3 separate regions of the Homo sapiens genome follow, and regions 2 and 3 are each linked to region 1. Evidence: fine-mapped expression QTL. A gene starts in region 1. Each other region holds a variant in brackets. All regions are shown on one strand. Distances are from middle to middle.

What was found. PIP is the estimated chance that this variant, and not a neighbour inherited with it, causes the effect.
Region 2: its variant is the best candidate, but not a certain one, in a credible set for the expression of CACNA1B in cerebellar hemisphere (GTEx, PIP 0.88).
Region 3: its variant is the best candidate, but not a certain one, in a credible set for the expression of CACNA1B in nucleus accumbens (GTEx, PIP 0.74).

Annotation. Positions count from the first base shown.
Region 1 is chr9:137,875,845-137,880,046 of GRCh38, reverse strand. It overlaps CACNA1B (calcium voltage-gated channel subunit alpha1 B), which reads right to left and starts at 2,265. Exons shown (of 47, transcript NM_000718.4): 1 at 1,830-2,265; 2 at 888-993. The coding sequence starts at 2,113. All of the region lies in intron 2 of CACNA1B-AS2 (CACNA1B antisense RNA 2), which reads left to right. RefSeq lists an enhancer at 1,157-2,072.
Region 2 is chr9:138,107,928-138,112,129 of GRCh38, reverse strand. The region is part of intron 39 of CACNA1B (calcium voltage-gated channel subunit alpha1 B); the gene reads right to left. Among named protein-coding and RNA genes, the nearest start is that of FAM157B, 110 kb to the left of the region's middle. The variant C/A (reference allele first, on the strand shown) is at 2,636.
Region 3 is chr9:138,172,761-138,176,962 of GRCh38, reverse strand. It overlaps the pseudogene TUBBP5. Among named protein-coding and RNA genes, the nearest start is that of FAM157B, 42 kb to the left of the region's middle. The variant A/G (reference allele first, on the strand shown) is at 2,455.

The sequences.
Region 1 (4,202 bases):
CCTGACACCCCAGAGAGGCCGTCTCCTGGACGCCTCTGGCCCCGCACCCCCTGGGCCCCCACTTGCTCTGCCTTCTGCTCACCTGGAGGCTCCAGTCTTTAGGCACACTCGGAACCCAGACATGGGGCCAGGCATCAGGGAAGAGTGGGGGCTGGGGGACATGCTCTGACCTCAGAAACTGCTCACCTCCAAAATGCTGCCCTTCCTCTGACCCAGCCCCTCCAGAGACCCCACAGGGCTGGCCTTCCACCTTGCCTCCTGTTGAGCCACGGAGACCTTGCCCTGGCACCCTGACTCACACAGACTCTATGCTCCAATGGGGGCTACCACGGGGGCCTCTTGGCTGGAATCTGGGGACAGGTAAAAATGATTCAGAATGTTTGAGAAGGAATGCTTCCCACAGGATGGTGAGGCCCACTGGAGAAGAGGTTCCAAGCAGGCCCGCACAAGACAACTTGGAGGATGAGGCTCAGGGTTCCCACATCCAGGCCAAAGCCCATCTCAGCCCAGCAGGGCACACATGGCATTCAGAGCTGACCTTCCCGAAGACATGAATGCCCCTTCCCCACCCCAAGTTTAGAACATGGTTTTCTGGATCAAAGTCTAGCGCCGAAAGCCAGGACAGCCATTGAGGTGCAGGAGTAGCTCGTGGCACAGGGCAGACTGGCCCAGGGCTAACGTGGCCACGCCCAGGGCTAAGCCGGTGACCCCAGCTGCCCTGGCCCTCGAGGAAGGTGTTATCTGCCAGGCCTACCTTTTCCTTCAGACGCGAGGGGCACTGCCCAGACGACCCTGCCCGAGGAAGCTGTTCTCAGGCACAGACCATAAAGGAAAGTGGAGTCGCGGCCTCCCCACCACCCTGCCCTCAGGCCCAGCCGGGCACTCACCAGCCGCTCGGACATGGGCGTTTTGTCCCCATCAGGGAGGTGCTGCTCCAGGGCCAGCACGATGCAGTTGGCGATGATGGTGGCCAGGATCATATACTCGAATGGAGTGCGTGAGTTAAGGACTGGCCGGCAGACGCCGCACGGAGGGAAACACGAGGCCGACGCCAGCAGAGCCCAGTGCAGCAGCCACCGCTAGGCCGTCTCCGGAGGGGCTGAGACAACTGGGTCCGGAGCCCCTCTCCTGGCGGAAGCGGCCTGGTCTCCCTCACTCCCTGCCCCCATCCCTAGGGGCGGCCGCGAGGCGGGGCCTCCGCAGTCTGGGCCGCCAGCCCCTCGGCACACCCGGGCGGCCGTCAGCACCGCGGACAGCGCCTCCGGCCCGGCTCCGCCCGACTCCAGGGCCCCGAGGGGAGGGGGCCGAGCGCCCCCAGGCGAGGCTGGAGGGAGACCCCGCGCAGGCGCACGCTGCTCCCTCCAGACACGCAGCCACATGTACCTACACAGGCACGTGAACATGCATGTAGCCCGCATCGCGAGCGCACGCACGCGCAGCGCCAGGCTCCAGCTCAGCCCGCACACGCAGGCACCTGCAGCCAGGCGCGCGCACGGCCGCGTCCCCACAGCGCTCGCACCTGCACGGACGCGGCTTCGCCCTCGGTGCCCTCCAGGCTAGCCGCGCACTGTGCACCGACCAGGATCCCCAGGACCCGGCGTGCGGAGGGACGAGTCCGGAGCAGAGGGGCTCCGCCCCGCGCCCGCCGCACTCACGGAAATGCTCCCGCACCCGCCGCTCCGAGGGGCCCTGGGGCGCTCCGTACCCCCCTCGCCCGTCTCCCGACGCCTCCCCAGGTCGCGCCCTCCCGGCCACCGGGAAGATGGCCCCGGCCCCGGCCCCCACCCCGGTCCCCGCCCGGCCCCGCCCGGCCCCGCCCGGCAGGATATGGCCACTCGGTGATGCGCTTCGCGTATTTGCGGACGACGTTGTCCTCGCTGAAGACGAAGAGCGAGCGGTTGACGGTGAAGCAGTTCTGCTTGACCGGGATGGGGTTGTACAGCGCCATGGTCCGCGCGCGCTGCGCGATCGATTGCTTGTAGAGGACCCGCTGGCCGGGCTGCAGCCCCCCGGGACCCGGGCCCCCCGCCCCGCCGGCCCCGCCGCCCCGGGCCCGCTCTCCGCCGCCGGGGCCCCCATAGCGGCCGCCCAGCTCGTCCCCGAAGCGGACCATGGCTCCCGGGCCCCGCGTGCATCCCCGGCCCAGCGGCCCCGGCAGGGAGGGCGCGGGGCGCGCCAGGCGCTCAGAGCGGAGCAGCCACGGAGCCGCCGGGACCGCAGCGGACCTCGCCCGGCCCCACCGCCGCAGCCGCCGCCGCCTCACCCGACTCCGCGGCCCCGCGCCACGCCCTATAAGGGGCCGGTCACGTGGCGGGGCCCGGCCAATCCGCGCCGGCCCCGCCCACCCTGCCGCGCCGGCCCCGCCCCGCGGCCGCCCCCGCCCCGCCCCGGCCCCTCCGGCTGCGCCTCCCTCGCCCCGCGCCTCCCACCCCGGGGCTGGGCCGGGCCCAGGAGCGGACGAGCCTGTGGGTCCTCGACGGCCGCTCAGCGCCAGCCCGGGCCGTCCCCGGAGCCCACTCTGCCGGCCGCACCGCCCCTGGGTGCCCTCGGCTCCTCAAACTCGGCCCAGACGGACCCCTCGCTCCGCCCGGAGGCGCCACCAGCCCTGGGGCTGCAGCCCAGAGCTGGGCGCCAGGCCTGGGCCGGCCCGCCCCGTCCCCGCCGGGTCCCCGGCCTTCCCAACCCTCCGGGTGCGCTCGGCTCGCGGCCTTGGTGCCACGCGGACGCTTCTGTCGGGGGCCCCCAGCCCGGGTGCGGGACCTGCTGTTTCCACGCACGGGGCTGGCTCCGGGATCTCAGCTCAGAGAAGCCTCTGACCGCCTTGCAGGCCACGCCCCGTTAGGGAACCTGTCACGGTCACTGCCATTCCCCAGGCCTCCTTGAGCGCCCACCGCGGGCCGGGCCTGTCCTGGGCTCCCAGCTCTGCCCTCACGGAGCTGACCGTTTTGTACAAAGCACAGCAACCATTTACACAGCGCTCACTTCGTGCAGGCCCGTGGGTCCTCACAACCTCCAAAAAGGCGGCCCCGGGGTCGGGGAGACCTTCGGGAACAAGGGACCCTCTCGGACCTGAAGCTCGCTCGCAAGGCGCTGAGTGCAGAGTGAGGCCGGGTGCGGGCTGCGCCTTCTGAGAGGGAGGCAGTCCGCACAGTTCCGAGCAGAGGCGCGTAGGCCTCTGAAGGGTCCCTCGGGCTGCCGTGTGGAGTGTGGACTGCAGGAGGCTGGGGTGCTGAATCACTTAGGATGCATTCAGAGGCGAACAACCCGCTTCCCAGCTAGCAGCAGCTTGCACGATGCCATTGTGATCTCACTGAATACGAAGCCACCATCTCTCCTCCCTCCAAAATCCCCACATACACTTTCTGCCTTCCTGCCTGTTGCCTCATGCCCCAGGGTGGCTGTCATAGCACAGGGCATCACACCGCTACACCAGCATCTCAAACGGGAAGGAAGTGGCAGGTGTACAAAGGATGACCACTTTGTGAATCAGGTTACGATTTTCTTTTCTAACAAAGGAAAAGCTTCTCAGAGGCTCCCCCTGCAAGTGTCTCTTTAACCCCGTTAGGCCATGGGCCATGTGGCCGGCCCTGACTTTAACAGGGTGGGAAAGTGAACATGTGTCAAAGTGGACCAGGATGGCCAGCCCCCACTAGGCGAGCACATAGTTGCCCCAAACAAAATCAGGGTTCGCTTAGCTGGGAAGCAGGTGCTAAGGCTGTCGGGGAGGCTGCCAACTGGCCTGTCACAGAGAAAAATCAGAGCCCAGGGAGGGGTTTTGACAGCAGCACAGAGAGAGATGATGTGGTTTGAACATGGGGGCCATGAGCAGTGCCTCTTTCTCTTAGAGAGAGTGCGTCCAGTGTAAATGTGAAGGAGAGATAGAAACACAGGCTCTTCATTTTTGGTCTGAGTGACTGAGTCGAGGGGGATGCCCTTTGCCGAGATGGGGAAGACAGAGGGAAGAGCTTGTTAGTCACAGGGTGGAAATTAAGAATTGCCTACTGGGGACAGAAGTGGAGATGCTATGCAGGGGTGGAGTTTCTCGAGGGATGCCAAGACGAGAGGCCACTGCTGCAGCCCTGCGCCTGGAGGCTGGGCTCGCCACATCTGCTCTGCCCTTCCCTCCGTGCTGCGTGACGCTGGAGCTGGCCTTTGAAAGCCACATCAGCCTGTTCCTTGACCTGTGGTTTCTGGTTATGCTA
Region 2 (4,202 bases), 230 kb before region 1:
CATGCATGTGCACTGCACGTTCGTGTGTGCATGGGACGGGCAATGAGGATTTAGGAGGAAGATGGCAGCACTCCAGGCATTCATCTATTCATTCAACAATATTTACCAAAAAACTCTCAAAAACTTCCCTTCTGGAGTTGACAACGCTTTAGTCTACCAATAAAGCAGTAATAAGTAAAAAAAAAAAAAAAGTGTACCGGAGAGTGCAAAGTGCCAAGGCAAGGAGAGCAGAGCGGGGAAGGGGAATATCAGCAGGGCTGCGGCTGTGGACAGGACGGCCATCAGTCTCCCGAGGAGGCCTGTGTGCCCTGAAGGTAAAAGGAGCCCCCGAGTACACTGGCCCTGCTGTGTCACCCGAAGGGCCAGGGAGGCCTCGGGGCAGGGTGGATGGAGGGGTGGGCAGGAGGGTTAGGGAAGGCAGTGGAGGGTTTTGAGCAGAGGAATAAAATAATTGGATTCACCTTTCTTGAACATCAGGTTTATTAAGGTACAATTCACATGCAGTGAGAGTCACCCTTTTTCATTCTCTATGAACTTTGGTGAATTCATACGCCCATGTGCCTAGCAGCACCGTCAAGGTGTGCAACAGCTGATCACTCCCAAATTCCTCTGTGCTCCCTTGAGTCGACCCCTCGTCCTACTGGCAGCCTCTGCCACCACTGATGTGTTTTGGGTCCCTATAGTTTTGCTCCAGAATGTCACGCCAATGGCATCATACAGCACACTGGCCTTTGAATCTGGCTTCTTTCACACAGTGTGGTGCATGTGAGAGTCATACACATTGCCACACGCAACTGTAGCGTGTTTCCTTTTACTCCTGAGTATTCTTTAATTGTATGAATGCACCATTTGTTTATCCATTGCCAATTGATGGACATATGAGTTGTTTACAGTTTGGGGCAATTTTGAATAAAGCTGTAAACATCTGCACATAGATTGTGTGGATGTATGTTTTCATTTCCTAAGTGCAATGGCTGGACCATAGAAGTAACGGCAAACTGTCTAAGGGGCTGCACCATTTTCTTTTCCGACTGGGAACATGTAGAATTCCAGTTGCTCTGCCCTCTCAGCACTAAGTATTGTCATTCTGAAAAGCATTTTGGCAACTCCAGTAGACTGGAGTGTAATCTCGTTGTGGTTTTTTTTTTTTTAAATTCTGGATTTGTCTAATGATTAATGACATCAAGCATTTTTGCATGTGTTTGTTTGCCTTCCATATATCTTCTTTGATGACACTTCTGTTCAAATCTTTTGTCTGTTTTGGTTGGGTTATTTTCTTAGGGAGTTGTGACAGTTCTTCATATATTAGGAATACTAATCCTATAGCAGATACGTGTTTAGCAAATATGTTCTCCAATTTTAGGCTTGTCTTTTCATTCTGGTTTTTTGTTTTGTTTTGAGACAGGGTCTCAATCTGTTGCCCAGGCTGGAGTGCAGTAGTATGATCACAGCTCACTGGAACCTCGAACACCTGGGCTCAAGCAATCCTTCCGCCGTAGCCTCCTGAGTAGCTGGGACCACAGGCATGCGCCACCATGCCCAGCTGATTTTTTAAAATTATTTTTTGTAGAGACAGAGCCTCACTTTGTTGTCCAGGCTGGTCTTGAACTCCTGGATTCCAGCAATCTTCCCACCTCTTCTCTCAAAGTTAATCAAAGCTGGGATTGCAGGTACAAGCCACTGCACTTGGCCTCATTTTTAAAAATATCTTTTGTGGTGGGGCACAGTGGCTCACTCCCGTAATTCCAGCACTATGGGAGGCCAAGGCAAGTGGATCATTTGAGGTCAGGAGTTCAAGACCAGCCTGGCCAACATGGTGAAACCCCGTCTCTACTAAAAATACAAAAATTAGTTGTGTGTGTTGAAATGTGCCTGTAATCCCAGCTACTTGGGAGGCTGAGGCAGAGGAATCGTTTGAACCCAGGAGGCAGAGACTGCAGTGAGCTGAGATTGCACCACTGCACTGCAGCCTGGGCAACAGAGCAAGACTGTCTCAAATATATATATATATGTATATATATATATATCATATAGCAAAAGTTTTGCTGTAGTTCAATTTATCGATTTTTTCCATTTGAGATGGAATCTCGGTCTGTCACCAAGGCTGGAGTACAGTGGCACTATCTTGGCTCACTGCAACCTCCGACTCCCAGGTTCAAGCAATTTTCCTGCCTCAGCCTCCCAGGGACTACAGGTGCACACCAGCAGGCCCAGCTTTTTTTAGTAGGGACGGGTTTCACCATGTTGGCCAAGTTGGTCTCAAACTCATGACCTCAGGTAATCCGCCTGCTTTGGCCTCCCAAAGTGTTGGAATTACAGGCGTGAGCCACCAACGCCTGGCCTTGTGTTTTCTATACAGGTTTCATAATTTTAGATTTTACGTTTCTGTCTACAATCCATTTCAAGTTATTTTTTGTACAGGGTAAAAGGTATGTGCTATGGATCAAGCTGTCCCCAACTCCAGTCCACATGTAGAAGCCCTAAGCCCCAGATGTGACTGTATTTGGTGACGGGGCCTGTAAGGAGGTGATCAGTTCAAGGAGTTCCTGTGGGGCCCTGATCCACAGAATCAGTGGTCTCATAGGAGACACCTGGAAATCCACTTGCTCTTTTTCTCTCCCTGCACACACAGAGG[C/A]AAGTCTGTTTGAGGACACAGCAGGACCATGGCTGTTTACCAGCCAAGAGAAGAGGCCTAAGAGTGACACCCACCTCACAAACACAAACTCTTGGACTTCTGGCTTCCAGAACTGTGAGAAATACATTTCTTTTGTCTAAGCTGTGATATTTTCTTGGGGCAGCCCGAGCAAGCTAAAACGGCATGTCAAGAATGTCTCTTTTTGTATAGGATTGTCTAAATTTCTCCAGCATCATTTGTAGAAAAGATGATCTTTTCTCCATTAATTGCCTTTCCAAGTTTGTTAAAAATCAATTGACCGTATAAGTGAGTCTATGATACATGATTGATGAAGCTTTCCTTAATTCCTACTTTATGTAAAATTTTAAAAATCATGAATGGATGTTGAATTTTGTCAAATGCTTTTTCTATACCTATTGAGATAATCATATACTTTTCCTTCTTTGATACAGTAAACTGGATTTTCAAACACTGAACCTAACTTATCCTGGGGTAAACCCCACTTGTGTCATCATATATTATCTTTTAAAATATATTCAGTTTGGCCGGGTGCAGTGGCTCACGCCTGTAATCCCAGCACTTTGGGAGGAGGCTGAGACGGGCGGATCACGAGGTCAGGAGATGGAGACCATCCTGGCTAACACGGTGAAACCCTGTCTCTACTAAAAATACAAAAAAGTTAGCCAGGCGTGGTGGCGTGCACCTGTAGTCCCAGCTACTCGGGAGGCTGAGGCAGGAGAATGGCGTGAACCCAGGAGGCAGAGCTTGTAGTGAGCCAAGATCGTGCCACTGCACTCCAGCCTGGGCAACAGAGTGAGACTCCATCTCAAAAAAAAAAAAAATTCAGTTTGCTTAAAGATTATGTTGAAGATTTAAAAAAATCTATGTTTATAAGGGATATTCGTCTGTAGTTTTCTTTTCTGGTCATGTCTTTGTCTAGTTTTGGTATCAGAGCAAAGCTGGCCTCTGAAAATAAAATAAGTTGGAAAATATTCCCTTTTTCCACTTTTTGGAAGAGTCTATACAGAATTGGCATTATTTCTTCCCTAAACAGTTGGTAGACTTCAATAAAGAAGCCATTTGGACCTGGGATTGTCTTTCTTGGAAGGTTTTTCCACTCTAAACTTAATTTATTTAATATATATGGTATTATGAAGCTTTTGCTTTTTTTTTTTTTTTTTTTTTTGAGATGGGGTTTCACTCTGTTGCCCAGGCTATAGTGCAGTGGCACCATCACAGCTCATTCCTCCTACCTCAGCCTCCCCAAGCAGCTGGGAGCACAGGCGTTCACCACCACATTCAGCTAATTTTTTAATATTTTGTAGAGCCAGGGGCTCCCTGTGTTGCCCGGACTGGTCTCAAACTCCTGAGCTCAAGTGATCCTCCTCCCTCAACCTCAAAAACTGCTGGGATTACAGGCATAAGCCAGGGCACCTGGCCTGGTTATCTCTTTTTTTTTTTTTTTTGTCCTCTGGTGTTGAAACTGAAGGTTATCTATTCTTTTTTTTTTGAGACAGAGTCTCACTCTGTCACCCAGACTGGAGTGCAGTGGCGCAATCTCGGCTCA
Region 3 (4,202 bases), 300 kb before region 1:
ACCAGTCAGCAAAGTAGCTGCTGTTCTTATCTTGAATGTTGAACATCTGTTCATCCACCTCCCTCATGGGCATGCGACCCTGGAAAATGGCAGCCGCCGTTAGGTAGCGGCCGTGACGGGGGTCACGGGCAGCCCTCATGTTCTTAGCATCAAACATCTGCTGGGTGAGCTCAGCCACAGTCAAGGCCCGGTACTGCTGGCTGCCCCGGCTGGTCAGTGGGGCAAAGCCAGGCATGAAGAAATGCAGCCGGGGAAACGGGACCATGTTCACGGCCAGCTTCCGCAGGTCAGCATTCAGCTGGCCTGGGAAGCGCAGGCACGTGGTGACCCCACTCATGGTAGCAGACACCAGGTGGTTCAGGTCACCATAGGTGGGTGTGGGCAGTTTTAGGGTCTTGGAACATATGTCATATAGCGCTTCGTTATCTATGCAGAAGGTCTCATCTGCGTTTTCTATGAGCTGGTGGACTGAGAGGGTGGCGTTGTAGGGCTCCACCACGGTGTCTGACACCTTGGGCGAGGGCAGGATGCTGAATGTGTTTATGATCCTGTCTGGGTACTCCTCCCGGATCTTGCTGATGAGGAGGGTAACCATCCCAGACCCAGTCCCCCCACCCAGGGAGTGGGTCAGCTGGAAACCCTGCAGGCAGTCACAGCTCTCAGCCTCCTTTCTGACAACGTCCATCACTGACTCCGTCAGCTCCGCGCCTTCGGTGTAGCGTCCCTTGGCCCAGTTGTTTCCGGCCCCACACTGACCTGTAAGACAGCACAGCCGGTCACTCGATGGCCAGGTATACGGTCATCAGTGGTCACCACCATAATGCAGAAAGAGCCAAGTGTCACACGTGAGGTGAGAGCACCGTTCGCCCTGCAGGTGGAGCAAATGAAACCCGCTCCCCCAGAGTAACAGGACAGCAGCTTCCCCTGTTAGGAATTAAGTCAGGAGTCAAACCTGAGACGGGCTCACAGACCTCGCCGCAGGTGGCTCCTGCCCATTCTCAGGAAAGGCAGTAGCCACGGCCCCAGCTCAGCTCCCGGCAGGGACATCAGTAGCTCCTCACCTTGAGGAGACACCCGGGACTTCCTCCCGAAGCCCGTTTAAGAGAGGCAGATTGAGCGACTCGACTCGGCAGATAGGAGGGTGTTCAGGGGCCCTGGCGCCACAGTTCCCACAGGATGACCTTGGAGCGTTCCTGGATTTTGAGCTGCCCTGGCTAAGGAGCCGCACCCCAGTCCTCGCCCGCAGCTCACCGAAGATGAAGTTGTCTGGCCTGAGGACCTGCCCGAAGGGCCCCGAGCGCACAGAGTCCATGGTGCCCGGCTCCAGATCCACGAGCACAGCGCGGGGCACGTACCTGCCACCTGCGTGGGGCGGGAGGGCATGAGCGAGGGGAGGGCCGCGTTCCCAGGAGGGCGGTGGGGGAAGGACGGGGGTCGCACCGCTGGCCTCGTGGTGGTGCACATTGGGTGGGGGAAGGACGGGGGTCGCACCGCTGGCCTCGTGGTGGTGCACGTTGATGCGCTCCAGCTGCAGGTGGCTGTCCCCGTGGTAGGTGCCAGCGGAGTCGATAGCATGTTCATCAGAGATCACCTCCCAGAACTGCAAGAGACGGGAGGGGCCAGACAGGCCGGGGCTGAGTCACGGAGGCACCCCAGCCACTCTCCCACCCCCACCCGCACCCCCATCCCTAGGCCGCCCTGTCCCTGGGGTCCACCCCGGCCGCCTCGCCAGCCACCCAGTTCCACCGTCCCCGGCAGGGAGCCCAGGGGCCGCAATGCAGGGGCACCGCCCCGCCACTGCTAACATCTTCCCCGGCCACCCGGCAGGCCCGGGCTGGGCCCTCAGAGCCCTGGCTGCCAACCTTGGCCCCGATCTGGTTCCCGCACTGCCCGATCTGCGTGAGAGCACAAGCTCCCTCGTGGCCAAGGCAGGATTAGGGCGGCAGGAGAAGCGCGAGAAGGAGGAGCAGACGCGCAGCGACCCAGCCCGGCCTCCGCCAACGCTTAAACAGCCCCGCGCCCACCTCCCTCAGCCTCCGATTGGGCTCCCAGAATAAGCAACAGCTTTACTTCCACACAGGTGCACCCACCTGTGAATCCCTTGGCGTTGAACGTCTGTTGGAGAACTCAGGTGTCCTTGCGTGGTCCCTTCCACGTTGGGGAAAGCTGCTCAGCTGGAGAACTTCCTCCCACGTCTTTAGTAAGACTAAATCCCTAGCTGAGCTGAAACTGAATTTTCCTCCCATGTGGGAGGGGAAGACTCTTGTTTCCATATGCACGGAGTGCCTTTGCACCTGTCCCAGATTGATGACATATTTTTGTAATTGATGAGTCTTTTCATCTATTAGGAGATCTGTCGTTAGGAAAGGCCTTCCACATGTTAACTCAACAGGACTTAATTATACGTTTTACTTTGGAGCAGTTCAAACCCGCAGTAAGCTATGGGTGTTGGAG[A/G]TAGTCAGGCGTCTGATTTAGCTGGAGTCTTCTGTAGAGTAGGATTAGCCCTTTCACCTTTCCAGAGGACTGCAGTCTCCACACAGAGTGAAGGTAATATTGGATTCTTAAAGCTGAGATAGGTGTTGGGTTACGCCTGCTGTGAAAGATGGGCCATTGTCACTTTGCAGGCTTTTAGATTACCCAAACTGAGGAGTTATTTCTTCTGGTAAACATTTTTCAGATGGGGTGGGGAATGCCTCAATCTAACCAGTGAAGGTATCAGTAAGCATTAGCAAATATTTGAATCTCCTGCAGAAAGGCTTCGGGGTAAATTAGAGTTGCCAGTTCTCATGTAGATTGGTTCCTCAATGTTGGACAGGTTTAACTGGAGAAGGAGAAAATTGCTGGCCGTTTGGGTCATGTCAGGCACAGAGCTCACAGGGCTGAGTCACCTGTTTTAGTGTCTTGAAAAGATTTACCCCTATAAACAAATGAGACATTAACAGAAACAAAGAATCCCTTCTAGGGTGAAAAGAATCATGAAAGTGCTGAGTTATACTCCTGTGATTGGTACTTGGCGTTAGTAATTTATTACCATCATTCAGCCCGAGGGGCCCTGGACTGAAATGCAATCCCTGGCCCATTTTCGTTCTTCTTCAGGGTATTCCGGCCCAGTTCTATGTATGCTGACCAGCACGCCCACAAGCTTCATTGGCCCTTTCAGTGCAGGGGCCTTGGCTGTGGCATCTACAAGGGCATTTCCTTTTACATGGTCAGTCTCTCTTTTGATGTCCTCTGCAATTAATTATAGTCACTTTTTGGCAGCAAAGCAGCACTCTAACAAGCTCAAAATCTGAATGATGTTGTATGGAAAAGCCCTTGGGGGTCAGGAGTCCCCACCCATTCCAAATTGCAGCATAAGCATGAAGCACTAAAAAATCATACTTGGAATCAGTGTAAATGTTAACTTTTAAATCCTTTCCAACTGCAGGGACCTAGTAAGTTCAATTAACTCAGCTTTTTGAGCTGAGGTCGAGGCCAGCAAGGCTTGTGCCTTGATTCTCTTGTGCTAATAATAGCATATCTAGCCCTCCTGTTTTCCTGATGCATAAAACAACTTGCATCTGTTAACCACTCTGCCTTGGGATGGTCAAGGGGCTCATCTCTCTTAAGTCTGGCCTGCTAGAATCAATTTGTTTCATAACCTGTGACATGCTTTGGCTGTGTCCCCAGTCAAATCTTATCTTGAATTATAGCTCCCATAATTCCTATATATCGTGGGAGGGGCCCAGTGGGAGGTAATTGAATCGGGGGATGGGTCTTTCCCATGCTGTTCTCGTGACAGTGAATAAGCCTCATGAGATCTGATGGTTTATTTATTTATTTATTTTTGAGACAGAGTCTTGCTCTGTTGCTCAGGCTGGAGTGCATTATCATGATCTTGGCTCACTGCAACCTCTGATTCCCGGGTTCAAGCGATTCTCCTGTCTCAGCCTCCCGAGTAGCTGGGATTACAGGCGCCCACCACCATGACTGTCTAATTTTTGTACTTTTAGTATAGACGAGGTTTCACCATGTCGGCCAGGCTGGCCTCAATCTCCTCACCTCAGGTCATCCACTGCCTTGGCCTCCCAAAGTGCTGGGATTACAGCTGATGGTTTTATAAAGGGGAGTTTCCCTACACAAGCTCTTTTGCCTGCTGCCACGTAAGAGATGTGACTTTGTTCCTCACCTGCCTTCTGCCATGAGTGTGAGGCCTCTCCGAC